Homo sapiens: one gene and its partners. The protein of the gene in region 1 interacts with the protein of each later gene in a pairwise test. Each region holds a gene or a part of one and is shown on either strand. Other genes may lie near its edges.

Region 1 (4,341 bases):
ATAAACAAAGTAATTAAGCACTTCAAGACCACTACCTAACCACTTTTCTCTAAGAAGCAAAGTTCGTATTTGAGTATTTTAAGTGGAAAACAAAATATATAAAAAGGACATTCATAGTATTATTGTGTTCCTGGAGGTGTGTTTCTTATAGAATTTATAAGAAAGAAAAAAAAGCATTTCTTACTATCATTAAATTATCAATCAAACCACACTTATTTTATTAGATTAAAATATTTACAATCCTCATATTAAATAACAGATCATGTATAAAGGACTCTCTGTGTACTAACCAAAATTCTGAACAAATTTAACATAACATGAAATCTTGGAAGATGTAAAATAACTTTTTAAGAAAAGGTATTTAGTAACAAAAACAAGCAATGGGGAAAGGATTCCCTATTTAATAAATGGTGCTGGGATAACTGGCTAGCCATATGCAGAAAACAAACTGGACCCCTTCCTTAACACCATATACAAAAATCAACTCAAGGTGGATTAAAGACTTAAGTGTAAAACCCAACACTATAAAAAACCTAGAAGAAAATCTAGGCAATACAATTCAGGACACAGCAAAGGCAAAGGTTTCATGACAAAGATGCCAAAAGCAAATGCAACAACAGCAAAAATTGACAAATGGTATCTAATTAAACTAAAGAGCTTCTGCACAGCAAAAGAAACTATCAACAGAGTAAACAGACAACTTAGAGAATGGGAGAAAATTTTTGCAATTTATCCATCTGACAAAGGTCTAATATCCAGCAACTATTATAAAGTTGAAAAGTTCCACCATCCCTGAAGTGAAAGGCATCGATGTCACTGCTCTTTTCATTTTATCTTCTCTTACACCTTTAGCTCCCAAATAGTTAAAGACTCTGCCCATAAAATCTGTCCAAAATCCTTTTTGATAAGAATCATGTAGTTCCTTGATAAGGAACTTAAACAAATTTACAAGAAAAAACAAACAGCCCCATTAAGAAGTGGGCAAAGACACAAACAGACAATTCTGGAAAGAAGACAATACATGTGCCCAAGAAATATATGAAAAAAAAGCTCAACATCACTGATCATTAGAGAAATGCAAACTAAAGCCACAACGAGATACCATCTTATACTAGTCAGAATGGCTATTATTAAAAAGCCAAAAAATAACAGATGCTGGCAAGGTTGTGGAGAAAAAGGAACACTTTTACACTGTTGGTAGGAGTGTAAATTAAATTAGTTCAACCATCGTGGAAGACAGTGTGGTGATTCCTCAAAGACGTAGAGGCAGAAATACCACTTGACCCAGTAATCCCATTACTGGGTATATACCCAAAGGAATGTAAATCATTCTATTATAAAGATACATGCAAGCGTATGTTCACTGCAGCACTGTTCACAATAGCAAAGACATGGGATCAACCTAAATGCCCATCAATGACAGACTGGATAAAGAAAATGAGGTACTTATACACCATGGAATATTATGCAGCTATAAAAAGGAATGAGATGATGTCCTTTACAGGGACATGGATGGATCTGGAAGCCATTATCCTCAGCAAACTAACACAGGAACAACAACAAGAAAAACCAAACACCATGTGTTCTCACTTATAAGTGGGAGCTGAATCATGAGAACACGTGGAAGGGAATAACATACCCTGGGACCTGTCAGAGGGTGGGGGTGGGAGGAGGCAGAGCATCAGGAAAACAGCTAGTGGATGCTGGGCTCAATACCTAGGTGATGTGATGATCTGTGCAGCAAACCATCAGGGCACACACTTACCTATGTAACAAATCTACACATCCTGCACATGTACCCCTGAACTTAAAAGGTGGAAATCAAAAAAATTAAAAAAGTATTTAGCTTAAAATCAATTTCTAAATATCAATATTATAAGTAAATGATTGCTGACACTCTATATGATATTCTAAACAAATTACCTGAGAACTGGAGGCCAATTTAATTCTTCCAAACTAGAAGTAACTTGGTTAAGAGTTTTCACATGTTTATTTATAGCTGCTCTAGATAGTTTAGCTCTGGGGTGCCAAATAATTTGAATACACCTGAGTAATCATACTGTTTGTGGTGTGACAATTACTTATGTCTCTGTTTTCATTAGAATATAATGAAGGTGATTAATTATAAATCTCAAGAGAAAAGGAAAGAATAAGCTGGTCAACTGATGGTAAGAATAAACATTATTTATAAAAAATAACTATATAGAATATCCAGAAAAGGATATAATTAATGTGTGTAAACAGATAATAATAATAATTTTGAGAGTCATTATATGTCAGGCACTGACCTAAAAACTTTGCAATATCATACCATTTAATTGTCACAACCCTATTAAGTAGGAATCATTATTATCCTCATCTTAAAGATATATAAGCTGGATCTTGAAGTGGTTAGGTGTTAGTAAAGTGCCAGAGCTGGAATCTTAGGTTGATTTGATTCCAGACTTCATGCTTTTAAGTACCAAATTCTAGTGTTAAAAAATAGAATATTTAATGACTACTCATTAGTTTAAAAATATAACACTAAGTAGGTAATTTTGGCAGAAAGATATTTAATTACATAAAAACATTCATTACTTTCAAAGTACACACTAACCATAACACCACATCTGTGATACTCTTTATAACCATTTTGAGGTTTTTACAAGAAATCCTAAAAAGGCAAAGAACCACAGCAATAAGAAAAAGATCAATTAAAAATGAAAAACATGGCATTTAACCACACATATTCTCCAGTTTATAACAGTAGACACCCAGTAGTGAAGACAGAATAGAGCTCTTGACTCACATAAGACTAAGTATTCTGTGTCTCTTAATTTAGAATATCTAGAGAATAATTAACCTATAGGGGTATCACCTGTTGTGTGAATGTGGCTGGTACATAGTTTTTGTTATTCTGGATCCTTGTATCACTAAATGCCTAATCCAGATGCTTCTGACTGGTTCCCTGAAATTTAAATGCAGAATTCACTTTCCTACAGAAACAATGTAATAAATAATAAGGCATAATTGACAATCACAGTAGTACTGTAACTAGGCACATTTTAAATTAAATATGCTTTTTGAGAATTCTGAATTTATAATTAAAACAAATTTCAAATGTAACTCACTGTTGTTTGAAAACTGCCTCAAACCTAAACTTAATTAGCCACAAATTACTGAAATTCCTGAATTATTAGCCTCAAAATAGCATGAGACTGAGGTAACATAGTTCCCCTGCTGATCTGAAAGTGCACTTTTAAAATTTTCCCATCTTTTTCTGTTAGTATTTTCTCACCACTCAACATAAACCTTTAAAAAATACTTACCCAACTTAGTATTTCCAAGACAATCTTACTTCAGCATTGGGATTAGGATAAACAATCATGACAATCTTCAGTTTTAAACATCAGCCAGTTGTTTTCAAATATTACTCCTATTCTATATACAGGGAACAGAGTCTTCTGGTTTGGAGCAAAATAATGGAAACTTCTTAACTCCTAAAATTAATAAAAGTATTTTAAAAGCTTTAACATTTGTATTTTCAGGCCGGGCGCAGTGGCTCACGCCTGTAATCCCAGCACTTTGGAAGGCCGAGGCGGGGGATCACGAGGTCAGGAAATGGAGACCATCCTGGCTAACACAGTGAAACCCCATCTCTACTAAAAATACAAAAAATTAGCTGGGCGTGGTGGCGGGCACCTGTAGTCCTAGCTACTTGGGAGACTGAGGCAGGAGAATGGTATGAACCTGGGAGGCGGAGCTTGCAGTGAGCCGAGATCGCGCCACTGCACTCTAGCCTGGGCAACAGAGCGAGACTCCGTGTCAAAAAAAAAAAAATTTTTTTTTTTGTATTTTCTAATTATGTTGTTTTTCTAATGTCAGAAAAGCATCTTTTGGCAATAGGAGAACAAAGTTTTGCTTTCCACTTGGTATCGACTTGGTGTCGAAAATAAGAAATGTTATGTGAAAATAAGTTTTTGTCCAGTGGATAAAATCAGTGTTAAGCTGATTGAGATTTTCAGAGTCCATTTTTTCTTTGTACTTGTTTAATAATAGAGGAGTTCCACATTCTGTTGTCAATAGACATTTAGTGCTGTACTAGAAATTAAAATGTCTCCAAAAATTAAGAATATGAACAAAGATTTAGTTTTAAGAATGTGAATCTGTTTTGAAACCAATTTGTTAAAATTCCAAAAAGTTAACTGTTCTCTTCAAAAGCACAATCTATGTCTATTTGGTATGTCTGCAATGTTTCCATAGTGTAACAATATCCTGCATACTTTACACAATAATGAAAATTAAAAACTACACAGACATCCAAGAATTGGGAAATAATTAAGTAAGATATGCATGTGATAG
Region 2 (4,688 bases), on another chromosome or scaffold:
GCACCCACCGCGCTTTCTGCATCTCTGAGCGTGACTACTCTAAGGACCCCGTGTACATGGAATCATCCGATATGTGGCCTTTTGTGCCCAGCTCAGTTCACTCTGTGTAATGTCTTCAGCGTTCATCCACATTGCAGCCTGTGTGAGAATGTTCTACCTTTTCAAGGCTGAATGATGTTCCATCGTATGGACGGACCGCATGGCGTCTGTCCATTTACCAGGTGATGGACTTGTGGGTTGCCTTTCCCTTTCCAGCCATGGAAACAGTGCTGCTGAGAACCCAGGTGCACAGGCAGCTGCTGCAGTCCCCACCCTCCCTTCTTCTGGGGATATCAGGTCTGCTGATTTTATGTCTGAAGGTCATGGGCCACTGTCCCTTCCCTATGCCCTTGAATCTCTTCCATGGTGTGTCCACTGTGTGGTCTTCCTGGATACCTCCAGCAATGGGGAGCTCACTGTCTCCCAGAGCAGCCCATTCAGGGCTTAGTGTGTAGCCCACACCTGTGTCCCTGTAGCTGCCACTCATTAGCCTCCTAACCCAGGACGCGTTTCCTTGTGCCCTTGGCAGGGGCTCCGTATTCACTCTGGGTTCTGTGGTCCTCACTCTGCACCACAGACTCTGATGCCTCCCTTCTCCCTCCCCGATTTCCAAGAGAGAACAAGATCTAGCCATGAGAAGCAGGATGGAGGTGTCTTCAAAAACAGCCACTGGTGATAGAAGTTGTAGGAAGGTACCATGGTCTGTCTGCCTCCACGCAAACCTCACCAGGTTTCATCAAGATAGCACACCAGGAGTGGTGTGGCTCATGACTGTAATCACAGCACTTCTGGAGGCTGAGGCAGGATCACTTGAGCCCATGAGTTAGAAACCAGCCTGGCCAACATAATGAGACTGCCATCTCTACAAATAATTTACAAAGTAGTGGAGCATGGTGGTGCACGCCTGTAGTCCCAGCTGCGCAGGAGGCTGAGGCAGGAGGATCGCCTGAGCCCAGGGGTTCCTGGCTGTCGTGAGCTGTGATGGTCTCACTGCACTCCAGCCTGGGCAACACAGCGAGAACCTGTCTCAAAAAACACAAAACAACAGGAAGCTCAGACAGGACTGTGGCTGCTTCAACCCTGTCCGTGGCCAGGCTGTGCCCCCTCCTCTGTCGCTGGGCACTCACCCCTCTCTCATTTTCTCCCCAGGGACCTACCAGGGCCAGTGGGTCGGTGGCATGCGCCAGGGCTACGGCGTCCGGCAGAGCGTCCCGTATGGCATGGCCGCGGTCATCCGCTCACCCCTGAGGACGTCCATCAACTCCCTGCGCAGCGAGCACACCAACGGCACGGCGCTGCATCCCGACGCCTCTCCGGCGGTGGCCGGCAGCCCGGCCGTGTCCCGCGGGGGCTTCGTGCTCGTGGCCCACAGTGACTCCGAGATCCTCAAGAGCAAGAAGAAGGGGCTGTTTCGGCGCTCGCTGCTGAGTGGGCTGAAGCTGCGCAAGTCGGAGTCCAAGAGCAGCCTGGCCAGCCAACGCAGCAAGCAGAGCTCCTTTCGCAGCGAGGCGGGCATGAGCACCGTCAGCTCCACGGCCAGCGACATCCACTCCACCATCAGCCTGGGCGAGGCTGAGGCCGAGCTGGCGGTCATCGAGGACGACATCGACGCCACCACCACCGAGACCTACGTGGGCGAGTGGAAGAACGACAAACGCTCCGGCTTCGGCGTGAGCCAGCGCTCGGACGGGCTCAAGTACGAGGGCGAGTGGGCCAGCAACCGGCGCCATGGCTACGGCTGCATGACCTTCCCGGACGGCACCAAGGAGGAGGGCAAGTACAAGCAGAACATCCTCGTCGGCGGCAAGCGCAAGAACCTCATCCCCCTGCGGGCCAGCAAGATCCGCGAGAAGGTGGACCGCGCCGTTGAGGCCGCTGAGCGGGCCGCCACCATCGCCAAGCAGAAGGCTGAGATCGCGGCTTCCAGGTAGGAGGGCGAGGGGGCGGGGGGCCCTTCTTGGTGCCCAGAAGGTGTTTGTGAGCCCAGTCTGTTCAGTCCTGCTGTCGCTCAAGGCCTTGGGCTAGGCCCAGTTTGAGGCCTACACTGGTGTTTCTCAAACTATGCCCCCATGGAACCCTAGGGTTCCCTGGAGGTTCTCAGAGGTGACTGTGGTCAGGATTGGTGCAGAGGAATGGTTGATTTGTGGGGGTGTAGAGGCCTACAGCCTCCTTAAACTGAGCAGTGTCTCTTTGTTCTATATGCTGATGTTTAGTGTAAAATATTGGTGAATAAAGAAGGTGGTCTGTTCCGTTAGTACAATGCATTGGAGTGCTGCTGTGCTAGCTAGTAGGGGTGACACCACCAGGTGGGGGTGGCAGGTCCAGCACTGCAGGGCTGTGGGAGGTGGCTAGGAGCTGCCTCAGCTACCCAGACCTGCGATCTAGATTCTTCCGGGACCCTGGGAGATGGCAGCAGTTGGGAGGCCAATTCCGAGTGCCTGGCAAGGGGCTCATGCAGGCCTGGTGCTTTGGGGGCAGCCGCTGTTCTGAATCGGCTGCATGACTTACGGAATTTGGGGTCCAGTGGGGCCTCTAGGCCCTAAGGAATGGGTCCAGAGGTGACTGTGGGTGGGATCGACGTGGCTTTTGGGTACCTTTAGGGGTGGGTGCAGGATGGGGCCTTTAGGGCTGGAGGAAGGTGCCCAGGGTCTGGCTCCTGTGGAGGTGAGTGTGTGAGCCAGGGGCTGGTCCCCGCCAAGCTGTGGCTGGCAGGAGCCACCTGCTGCAGGTTGGAGGAAGTTCCCCTGTGGAAAGCCACGGGCCCCACAGGTAGGCATTTGGGTTCTAAAGTAACTGAGGTTACTAAAGGGCTTTGTCAAGACTTGGGAAGGCATTTCAGAAAACCCAGAGCCTTTGCTTTCCACCGGCATTTGCTTTCCTGGGCCAGACGAGGGCCCTTGGGGTAGCCCGGAGAGTCTTGGGGCAGGGATCTGGGAGCTGCGGGGGAGTCCATGGGCTGCCCAGGCAGGAGGCTTCCCAGGGCACGTTCCCCTGCGTCTTTCTGGATGGCTTTGTGTTCTCAGCCAGGGGCAGACCTGGAGTTCCTCCAGGAAAGCTCCCAGCCTGGGTGCGGCTCAGCCCTTCCCGACCTGTCGCTAATTAAAGTTCAGCCCATTTGGTTCTGATTTTCAGTGACCTTTGATCTATAGTGAAAAACAAAAATGGTGGCTGCGGTTTGTTGGCAGAATATGTTGCTCGCGACTTCTATTGTTTTAGAGGGAATCAAGATCGATTCCAAGAAGCTGAAAGAAACATGGAATTACTACCTGACACCGAGGTCCAAACTCGCTGTTTGCCCCTCCCTGCTCCCTCAGAAATGTTCAGGCAGGGAAATAAACAGCAGCCCACGTGTGACTACTCATCTGGGGTTTTAAGAACAAATTAGAATCAGTAGTTATTTTTTCCATCATAAATGTAATACTTGTTCCACAGGAAAATAAATAACACTGAGAAGGGAGAAAGCAGCATTAGCTCTGGTCTGATGGATCGGCCGAGCGCTCTCCTTGGCATTTTGGTGAATTTCTTTCCTCTGTGTTTTGTTTTTCGACCCTTTCTATTTTGTATAGTTGCTTTTTTGACCCTAGTGGACAAGAAGCAGTTTTGGGGGCTGGGGGACAGCGGCGTCACGGAATTGAGGAAGCTCGTGGCAGCTTCCGTGTGACCTGCAGATTGGTTCATGAGTTCATTGGTTCATGAGTTCTCAGCAGCTCGAGGACTTAGTGGACAGTGCCCTGCAGGACTGAGCTTATTTCACAGCCTTGGCACTGGGTGGATGTCTGTAGGACTGGGGGGACCTGCGACCTGAGATAGTTTTCAGACGAATTCCCCTAGACATTAAGAGAAGCGGGTTCCCATTAAGGAGCCCAGGTGGCATGGACAGGGCTGGGGGCAGCACAGGTGAGGAGCTGCTCCAAGGCAGGTTGTCAGCCTCTCTGGACCTCAACTTCTAATCTCTGAAGGCCTGTGAAGCTTAGGTGGTAACAGCTCCCTTCCTGGGGCATCCAACCTCTTCCTGGGGTTTTGGGGGGCCCAGGGGCTCTGTGGAGCATTGCTGGGGGAGATGCCTACGTATAAGTGGGCATCATGCTGGGGTGAAAGCCCAGGGGCTGGGCCGGGAGGGCGAGACCTGAGACCCATGCAAAGGAGCCGGGGCCAGGGTGGGGTGGGCACGGCTCCTACTGAGTCCCCAGCCCTTGGGACGCTGGCCAGCCAGCCTTGGCATGGCCAGCATCCCTGTGTCTCCTGGGGAGGCATTTTACTTAATGGACAGAAGGACAGACAGACGGGTGGAGGGAGTGAGAGGGAAAGGATGGGTTTGCAGGCTGGTGCAGCTGTGAAACTGACGGAGCCCACCCCCTGCCAACCCCCCGACAGCCTTTGAGGCCCAGCAGCCCATGCTCCCTGGCAGGTTGCGGCTTGCCTTCTGCACTGGCGGAGTCCGAGCTGACTCCGTCCCTTCGCCCGAGCGGGCGTCGCGGGGAGGGAGGTGGTTCCTGCTTCCGCATGCGCACAACTGGGGTCTTGGATCGTAGCTCCTTTGTGAGAAAGGGACTGGCTCACCCGCCATGTCCTGCTGTCCACACACACGGCTCTGCACACCACTCACGGCCTCCTCACCGCTGTGCACAGCCAGCACGTCCATGCGCACC
Region 3 (5,386 bases), on another chromosome or scaffold:
GGCCACCTGCAAGCCACAGAGAGAGGACTCAGAAGAAACCAACACTGCAGATACCTTGATGATGGGCTTCCAGCCTCTAGGGATCGTGAGAAATAAATGTCTATTGTTGCAGCTCCCCAGTCTGTGGTGTTGTCACGGTGCCCCACGCTGACTAGGACAGAGAGCCTGTGTTCTACAGTGTCCACAGTCCTCACCACTCCCAAATGTCATGCATCCCATTCCTATATACATTGTGCACAGTCTCTGTCAGTATCTGGGTTTGCAACCCCTAATCTAGAGGAAAAGAGTAATGATTCTCCATGTATGTTGTGTGTTCTTATTTCAAAGTTTTGATGTTCATATCTCCTTTAAATCTCCCCACACTTCTAAGAGGCTGATACTGTCATCTCCACTTGGCAGAAGAGAAAACAGAGCTCAGAAAAGGGAAAAATTACTTTTCCTAGGTCAATGTTTGGGTGGAACTCAGGCCTGCTGGCTCAGGGCCCAGAGCTCATGTTCCTCCACCATGGCCCCTCAGCTAACAGGGGAGTTACTAACAGGGCAGTGATGTGTATGCGCATGTGTATGTGTGTTATAGGAGTAAGCCACTTAACAGAAGTGAACAAATCCAGGGGAAGGTTATTTGCTTGAAAAAATATTTGGCACATAATTCCTTTCAAAAGAAAAGCTAGAATGGGCTGGGCGCGGTGGCTCATGCCTGTAATCCCAGCGCTTTGGGAGGCCGAGGCGGGCGGATCACAAGATCAGGAGTTTGAGACCAGCCCGGCCAATATGGTGAAACCCCGTCTCTACTAAAAATACAAAAATTAGCTGGGTGAGGTGGTGTGCGCCTGTAGTCCCAGCTACTGGGGAGGCTGAGGCAGAAGAATTGCTTGAACCCAGGAGGCGGAGATTGCAGTGAGCCGAGATTGTGCCACTGTACTCCAGCCTGGGCAACAGAGCGAGACTCCTTCTCAAAAAAAAAGAAAAAAGAAAAAAAAGAGAAGCTAAAATGGAATATAACTAACAGAAGTTTGATTTATGCAAGAGTTCATCTCACAGAGGTAAATTAAGGTTGGCAGGCCTTTGACCAGGAAGAAGGAGTGGGTGAAGCTGTGGGTGTGGAGAGAGACTCTGTTACCCCACAGTGAACATTTAGGAGTAGGAAGCATCAGTGATTGAGACAGCAGGAGAGACTGTCTGATCAGCAGGGTCAGCATAAGAGAAGGAATAGCGAGACAGGGGGGAGGAATAGGGAGATTTGCAGAGGAAAAAAGTGACACCTTGGAGAACTTGCTGAACATTCAATGGAGACAGAGTGGCTTCAAACGTGACTCCAGCCTTGTGAAAAATAATCTCAGTTCATCCATACAATGACACACTATGCCCATTAGAAGAACAAAGTAAGCCTGTATATGCAGATATGAAAACATGGCGAAGACACACTGTTAAGTGAAAAAAGCAAGTTGTACCATGGAATGTAAAGTATGCTTCTCTTTGAGTTTAAAAAAAAAAAAAACAGCACAAATACAGAGTATATATATGTACAGAAGGGTTGGGGAAATACTTTCCGAAAAGACACAATCTTGTTAAGGGGTTACCTTTCAGAATTGGGAGGGGGTGTGTGGGCTTTTACTTTTCTCTTTCTACCTTTTTGAACTGTTCGAATTTCTTGTGATGAGCGTCGTTACTTTTATAACATTTAAAACAAAAGGTAAACCTAAGGTTTAAGGATTGGAAGACTGGTAAGTGTGGTATCCCTGCTAGGAGATGGGGAGAAGTCAGACATTTGGGAGGAAACAAATTCTGCAGTGAATCTGATGTGTTACAATGAAGGGCTGTAGTGATGCTTGGAAATGTGTGGAGAGTTTGAGGATCGGGCAGTTGAAAGCAGGAGTAATTGATATAATTACTCCAGATGACAGAATAAATTAGAGAATGGTGCAGAGGGAGGGCAAAAATAAGGATGTGAGAGGACAGATTTTTAACAGTGCTAACTGAGCACCAGCCTTGGATTGACCTATGTAAGACATTGTCTTTCTATTACTGCTACTTCAGCATGGTGGAAACACAGGGTCTCTGAGAGATGGCCAGTCTAAGGAAGGGACCTCTGCAGGCTTCCAAGCAGGGCAATTTTGTGGTCAAGGAGCAGAGGAGGATCACAATGAGGTAATGCAAGGGACTCATGGTGTCAGAGGAGAGACCTGGGCTGGGAGACTATTAGGGCCCACTGCAATTATTTAGCTGAAAAGCGAGGTCCTAGAATGGGGCAGCAGCAGTGGGGATGGAGAAATAAGGACAAAGCATATTAAGACAAGTAGTTTAGGTGGGGAAGGAGAGTGAAGAGAGTCATGAGGCATTGAGTACAAATCTCTGCCTGCCGTTCAATACCTTTTGAGCTCAGTTTGCCAGTCTGTATCATATATTTAAATAAATGTGAAGGTTAAGTGAAATAATGCATTCAGTAAATGTTAACTGTGATTGTTAGCTCGGGTATTGGACTCAGATTTACCAGACTTCAAGTCCCTTTTTTATCAATTACTAGCTGTGCAACCCTGTCCAAGTCATTAATGTCTCTGAGCCCAGTTCCTCTTTTGTAGACGGGGATAATCTGTTGTCATGAAAATGAAAGAGCACAAGTAAAGTGCTAGCAGGACTTGGCACAAAGTAGGCGCTCAATAAATGGCAGAGCTACGGGTGTTACTATTGTAACGGGTAAACCACTGGGCACAGAGCCTGGCACACAGTAAGGACTCAAAACATGTTAATTTGTATTATAATACGAAGGTAGAAGTCGAGAGGCAGGAATGCAGGAGCTGCCCAGCCCGCAATAAAGGCGCGCTGGCAGCTCTCCCACCTTCCGCATCCCGCCCCGCCCGCAGCAGTGCGAGTCCTCCTCCTCCTCCTCCCCGCGCGCACTTGCCGCCCCCGCCCGACCGCGGTGCGGGACACTCACCCTCGCGGCTGCCCGCCACGTCCAGGGGCGTCCGGAGCAAAGAAGCTCTCGGCGGGGCTCCGCGTCCCGGCTTTCCTCAGCGGCAGCAGCCGGGCAGAGCGTCGGCCCCAGGCATAGTTTTCCCATCCCGTCATGGGCGGGAGAGCCTTCCTCCCGGTCACGTGGGCTGGCCCGCAGCGCAGCATTCTCTTTTTAGCAGCTGTTTGGAAAAAACTTGCAGTGCTGATGACAACTCGGGTGTGTCGATGCATCTCTGCGTTTGTAGAGCTTGTTAGCGTATTTGGAGGTTTTGTGCGCCAGAGTGATCAGAGTGATTGTTTCCCACGCGTTTGCAAAGGTGTGCATGTACTTGAGTGTGATGATAAATCATAGGGATGTGTTTAGTTGTGTGTGTGCGTACGTGCGTTTATCCAAATTTTCATCAGGGCTGTTCGGTGTATGTACACATGCATGCACATGTCCAAGATGGCAGCTTGGTGTAAAACTGGAGGGCACATCAGTGGTTGGATGTACACGATAGTGGCTAGACATCTGTATGTGGGGTGCATGTTTAAATGTGTGTGTGACTGTGCAGGGGCTCATTCTGTGTGTTGGTTTGACATCTGTATGTGGGGTGTATGTTTAAATGTGTGTATGACTGTGCAGTGGCTCATTCTATGTGTTGATTTCTATGCATGCCTTGGTGTGGATTTTGTCCGGATGTGAGTGTGCACATACACACTAGTGTGGGTGAGTTCCCCTGTGTACCAGCTCTCATTTCTCTTCTCCCCAGAAGGTGAGGATTCACTGGTCTCACTCACTCTGGCCCAGCCTCAAGTCATTGAGAGACTTATGGAGGGTCTCAGCTCCCAGGATAGGCAAAGCAATCCTATTTGGGAATCAAGCAGGCACTGGAGGAAAGGAAATCCTCCAAGGCCTGGCTTTTGCTTCTCCCTGTTCCTTCCACTGCTCTCTTCCACTAGCTACCCATATTTCACTCTGCACAGCCAGAGCATCTGGTTAACAGCTGGTAAGTGACACAAAATTTACAGTCAGAATTTTAATACAGATATGCATTTGAATTCTAATGTTGTATCCACCACCTTAATCAAGTCAGATAATCTCACAGATGGTGTTTTATTTTCTAAAAAAAATGGGAGAATAATATTACCTGCACTGCCTTTACCCCAAAGTTGGGACACTAACTCATAAAGATGTTTGGTAAGCCATTGAACTATGTAGGGAATTATTACTAATATCACATAAATACTATTTGAGAAAGAAAGTTTGTAGGCTTAACAAACATTCATTCAACAAATATTTAATAAGCATCCATTGTGTGTCAGTCCCCAAGCAAGGTGCTGGGGACATAGAGGGAAACAAATAGGCTTGATGCCTACCCTCATGAAACTTAGAGTCCTCCAGCTGGGGATGACACAAGTGGTTACAAGTGAAATGAGTGTTATAGAAAAGAAAAGCTTAAAGTATAAACTGGGCAGTCAGGGGAAGGCCTGGGAAACTGATGTTTCAGGTGAACCCTGAGAGATGACTGAGACTTGTCTGAATGTAGGGGAAGTGTGAGCTCAAAAAATGAAGGAATGATAACATGTGGAGTGGAGTTTAGGGTGTTGATACACAGATGGCTGGAAAGGAAACTTCCATCCACCGCCTCTTGGGTCAGATGTGTCAGCAATTGGAAAGGTGAGGAAACTGCTTAGAATGCCTGGAGGCCATTCAGAATCTAAAGGGCTCAGGAAAGCCCCTCTCCTAGAGTAGAGTGGTAATATCTGTGTGTTATCCATGTGGCTCCATCATGACAGAGGTTGAAATCACTGGCATGCTCTCATTGGTTAAAAAAAAAAGGTTAATGAAAAGTTAAGAAAGGCAGTGCTGCTATACCTGGTAGTGTGAAACATTTAATAAACACTACTGATTGAATGAATGGGGGCACATGTTTTTCCAACTTTTGAAGGATACCTGGAACCTAGGTTTCCTGAAGCCTAGCAGAGTTCCTGGGTCCCTGTCCTATGGTTCCTTGCAGTGGTGATGGCTTCATGTAGCATGCAATCCAAAATACTTGTCCGGTGGCAGTTCCACGAGCTGCAGGAACTGTGTCAAGCTAGAATGGGGCTTAGAACTTCCTCTCCCTAGCCTCTCTCTGTCTTTACTCTCTGCTTGAATTCAGTCTACGAACATTTGTTTGTTTGTTTGTTTAAGATGGAGTCTTGCTCTGTTGCCTAGGCTGGAGTGCAGTGGCACAATCTCAGCTCACTGCAATCTCCACCTCCCGGGTTCAAACGATTCTCCCGTCTCAGCCTGCCAAGTAGCTGGGACCACAGGCGCGCAACACCACACTAGGCTAATTTTTGTACTTTTAGTAGAGATGGGGCTTCACTATTTTGCTCAGGCTGGTTTTGAAATCCTGGCCTCATGTCATCCAACTGCCTCGGCCTCCCAAAGTGCTGGGATTAC
Region 4 (4,688 bases), on another chromosome or scaffold:
CATTTAATACACCTAGTCAACCACAAGAAGGGATATGCATTTAGTACACCTAGTCAACCACTAGAAGGATAAAAAAAGAAAGAAAAATGACAGCTAAGAGACAATCAACGACTTGATCCTTCTCCATCTCCAGAAGATAAAACAGTAGAGACACATTTGGAAATTTCCTTTCATACTTCATATTTTTTGGACTTAGATATTGCTTTTTAAATTTCTGTTATTTATATACTGAACAACTCTCCAATTTAATGTGTACAAGACACTGGTTTTTTAATATATTCACAGAGTTGTACAACCATCACCCCAATCAACTATATAACAATTCCATCACCCCAAAAAGAAACTGTACCCATTAGCCGTCACTCCCCATTTCCTCCTAATACCTGCCACCCGCCCCAGGCAACACTAATCTATTTACTGTCTCTATAGATTTGCCTATTATGGACATTTTGTATATACAGAATAATCCAATATGTGAACTTTTGACTGGCTTCTCTGACTTAGCAAAATATTTTCAAGATTCATCCATATATGGCTTGTATCAGCACTTCATTCCTTTTTATTGCCAAATATCCCATTCTACATTTTATTTCTCCATTTGTTGGTTGATAGACATTTGGGTTGTTGCTACTTTTTGGCTATTACGAATTGTGCTGCTATAATATTCATGCACAAGATTTTGTGTGGACGTATTTTCAATTCTCTTGGGTATATACCTAAGAGTAGAACTGCTGGTGACTCTATGTTTAACCTTTTGAGGTATCGCTAGATAATTTTCCAAAGCAGCCCATCATTTTACAATCCCATCAGCAGTCAAGTGGGTTGCAATTTCTCCACATTCTCATCAACACTTGTTGTTATCTGCCTTTTTCATGATAGCCACCGGGTGTGAAGTGCTATCTCATTGCGGTTTTCAGTCGCATTTCCCTGACAGCGAATGGTGCTGAACATCCCTTTTGTGTGCTTATTGAAGATTTGTATATCTTTTTGGAGAAATGTCTTCTCAGATCCTTTGCCCATTTTTTAACTGGGTTACTTGTTTTTTTGAGTTGTAACAGTTCTTTATATATTCTAAATGTCTATATCTTATTGAATATGATTTACAAACATTTACTACCATTTCATGGCTTGTCTTGGCATATTCTTGATGGTATTCTTTGTATCACAGAAGTTTTTAAATTTGATGAAGTCCAATTTTATCCAAGAAACCATTGCTTAACTCAAAAATTTACTCCTATATTTTCTTCTAAAAGTTTTACAGATTTAGCTCATGTGTTTAGTTCTGTGATCCATTTTGAGTTAATTTTTGTACACGGTGTGAAGAAAGGGTCGAAATTCACTCTTCTGCATGACAATATCCAGCATCATGTGTTGAGAAGATTATTCTTTTGCCCTTTTAACTGCGTTGGGACTCTTGTCCAAAATCAATAGTTTGTTTCTGAACTCTTAATCCTATTCTATCAATCTGTAAATGTCTATTCTTATGCCAGTACCAGATTGTCTTGATTATTATAGTTTTATGTTGCTCAATCGTTTACACTGCTTTTTTTTTTTTGAGACGGAGTTTCACTCTTGTTGCCCAGGCGGAGTGCAATGGCAAGATCTCGGCTCACTGCAACCTCTTCCTCCCAGGCCAGGTTCAAGCAATTCTCCCACCTCAGCCTCCTGAGTAGCTGGGATTAAAGGCATGTGCCACCACGCCCAGGTAATTTAGTATTTTAGTAGAGACAGGGTTTCACCATGTTGGCCAGGCTCGTCTCGAACTCCTGACCTCAGGTGATCTGTCCGCCTCAGCCTCCCAAAGTGCTGGGATTACAGGTATGAGACACTGCGTCCGGCGTTACATTACGTTTTAAAATAATTTTTATATAAATTCCACATGCCAATAGAAGATTTTTAAAAGATAAGATTTTTATCACTGTCTATCCAATTATATATTAGAAATTTTACATTCTCCAAGAAAAGGAGCATTTCCTCTTCAACATCCTGTTATGAAGACAGAGACTGAAGAAAACATTCCTCTCACTCATTGGTTTCACCTATGTCCCACATTCTCTTTTTTTTGAGACAGTCTCACTCTCACCCAGGCTGGAGTGCAGTGGCCCAATCTCGGCTCACTACAACCCTCACCCCTTTAGGTTCAAGCGATTCTTGTGCCTCAGCCTCCCAAATAGCTGGGATTACAGGCACATGCCACCACTCCTGGCTAATTTTTTTGTTGTTTGTTTGTTTGTTTGTTTGTTTAGCAGAGATGGGGTTTCACCATGTTGGCCAGTGGGTCTCAAACTCCTGACCTCAGGTGATCCACCCGCCTCAGCCTCCCAAAGTGCTAGGATTATAGGTGTGAGCCACCATGCCTGTCCCCACATTCTTGAACTACAGCTATTCACAATTGTATCTGTGGGCAAACGACCCCAAGGTTCAATAATTATTCATACTTTTCACTTCACATTATCTTAGAAAGTAAAGTGTTTGAAAAAAATTTATTTGTATACCAGTGCTTACTATATGAATGACATTAAAAATGGTTGTGCAACACTTTATATCTTGCAAAGCACTTAAACAAACATTACCTTATTTGAATTTCATAAACATCATGAGAAGTTGATGAGCAAGTATTATTTCCCCCCCAAGTAATTATGGCCTTAAGAATGCATGTGCGATTGCTAAGGGATACAGGCATAACTCTAAAATTACTGCTTCATAAAATAGTTCCAGTATATTCTTGTAAGATTTTATTTTACAGCAATAAATACAGAAATGCTAAAAACCACTGCTGAGCTTCTGTGGAAAGAATAACATACTGCTAGCAACTAATCAGCCTCTGGATTTCATATCACTAGAGATTATAATTATAATTATAATTCTAGCCAATGTCCCTGCTTGTTGATAGTTGCTCCCATTACCATCACATCATGCCTATCACAAAGGGCATTCTGTCCCTTAAGTACTTTTGAGTGAGGCCACAAAGTTTCTTTTTGATCTAGAGATGGGATTTTTTTCAAAAGATACTGATAACAAACTATAGGGGGGAGAAAAGCAAAAATAAATCAACTACTACATCCCACACACACCAGAAAAAAAGATTAAAATATGGCAAATGTAAGAACATAAAATATTTAACATAATAAGTCTAGCCAATTCAATTTCAGTTTAATTCAAATTCTGCACACCTATTTGGTACCAAGCACACAATGAATAAGACAGTATGGTGCTTATGTAAGTATAGACATACAGATCAATGGAACAGAATTGAGAATCTAGATATGAGCCTTCATATTTATGATCAAATTTACTTTTTAAAAAGGTGTCAAGGTATTTTATTAAGGATATAAGAGTGTTGTGCTGGGAGAAGTGTCTATGCATATGCCACAATTCACAAAAATTAACTCAAAATATGGATCACAGACTCTTAAAGGAAGAACTAAAACTATAAAGCCTCTAGAATAAATCATCATGACTTGTGTTAGGCAAAGATTTATTTAATGAACACCAAAAGTACAATCCATAAAGTCACAAACTAGACTTGATAACAATTTAAAACTTTTGTGCTTCAAAAGACACAATTAAAAAACCAAAAAGACATCCCCAAAATATGTACATCTATTTTGTATCAATAAAAAATTAAAAAGAAAAGGCAAGGCATAGCCTGGAAGAAAGTATTTGCAAATCATGTATCTGATAGAGGACTTGTTTTCAGACATATAAAGAAATCATACAAATCAATAAGAAAATACACAAAAATGAGCAAAAAATTTGAATAGATATTTCCAGAAGATATAAGAATGGCTGATAAGCATATGAAAAGATGTCTGAAATCACCAGTTATTAGGAACATGCAAATTAAAACTACAATCAAATACATTACATACCCACTAGAATGGCTATAATCAAAACAAGAGATAATATCAAGCGTTGGCAAGGATGCGTAGGAGCTAGAACTCTCATATATTGCTGGTGGGAGTGAAAAATGGTAGTCATTTTGAAAAACAATTTGACAGACTCTTTAAAAGTTAGACATAAATTCACCACACAACCCAGCAATTTCACTCCTAAGTAACCACCTACGAGAAATTAAAACATATCCACACAAAGACATACGTCAAATGTGCATAGCAAGCCTATAACCTGGTGAATAAACAACATTTATACAATGAAATACTATTCAGTGATACGGCTGAATTAACTACTGCCACATGCTACAACACGGATATACCTCAAAAACATTATGCTAAGTGAAAGAAGCCAAACACAAAGACTATACATTCTATGAGTCCATTATAGGTTACAAGAAACTGCAAATCTCTAGAGACAGAAAGTAGATCAGTGGTTGCCAGGGGCTGAAGGTGGGAGTAGGGATTGACTACAAATGGCTATGAGGGAATTTTCTGAGATTATGGAAATGTTCCAAAACTAGACTGTGTTTATGGCTGCACAACCATGAGTGAATTATATACTTGCAATGGGTGAATTTTATAGTATTTAAATTATAACTCAATACAGCTGTTTAAAAAAAAAACACACTTGATCCCACACCATTCTACTTAAAAACTAGAATATTACCTACAGACCTTATGGCCCATCTATATACTCTTCCCTTAGTCTCATCTTCGTGCCTCGACAAGGTAACCATTACCTCAACTTAGTGTTGATCATTTCCATGTTTTTGTTGTTTTACAGATGCATCA

What was found. Proteins that work in one complex are often made in the same cells at the same time.
Region 2: the proteins of PHOSPHO2 (region 1) and JPH3 interact in binary tests that used the Homo sapiens proteins (3 or more experiments, as listed by UniProt).
Region 3: the proteins of PHOSPHO2 (region 1) and C1QTNF2 interact in binary tests that used the Homo sapiens proteins (3 or more experiments, as listed by UniProt).
Region 4: the proteins of PHOSPHO2 (region 1) and GKAP1 interact in binary tests that used the Homo sapiens proteins (3 or more experiments, as listed by UniProt).

What each region holds. Positions count from the first base shown.
Region 1 is NC_000002.12:169,696,499-169,700,839, reverse strand, and holds part of PHOSPHO2 (pyridoxal phosphate phosphatase PHOSPHO2), read right to left. Parts: intron 3,480-4,341; 5' UTR 3,309-3,479; intron 2,976-3,308; exon of another isoform or gene 2,858-2,975; intron 1-2,857. UniProt on the Homo sapiens protein: Phosphatase that has high activity toward pyridoxal 5'-phosphate (PLP).
Region 2 is NC_000016.10:87,643,070-87,647,757, forward strand, and holds part of JPH3 (junctophilin-3), read left to right. Parts: intron 1-1,188; coding exon 1,189-1,966; intron 1,967-4,688. UniProt on the Homo sapiens protein: Junctophilins contribute to the formation of junctional membrane complexes (JMCs) which link the plasma membrane with the endoplasmic or sarcoplasmic reticulum in excitable cells.
Region 3 is NC_000005.10:160,367,577-160,372,962, forward strand, and holds the start of C1QTNF2 (complement C1q tumor necrosis factor-related protein 2 isoform 1 precursor), read right to left. Parts: upstream 3,051-5,386; 5' UTR 2,936-3,050; intron 1-2,935. UniProt on the Homo sapiens protein: Involved in the regulation of lipid metabolism in adipose tissue and liver.
Region 4 is NC_000009.12:83,769,020-83,773,707, forward strand, and holds part of GKAP1 (G kinase-anchoring protein 1), read right to left. Parts: intron 1-4,688. UniProt on the Homo sapiens protein: Regulates insulin-dependent IRS1 tyrosine phosphorylation in adipocytes by modulating the availability of IRS1 to IR tyrosine kinase. Its association with IRS1 is required for insulin-induced translocation of SLC2A4 to the cell membrane.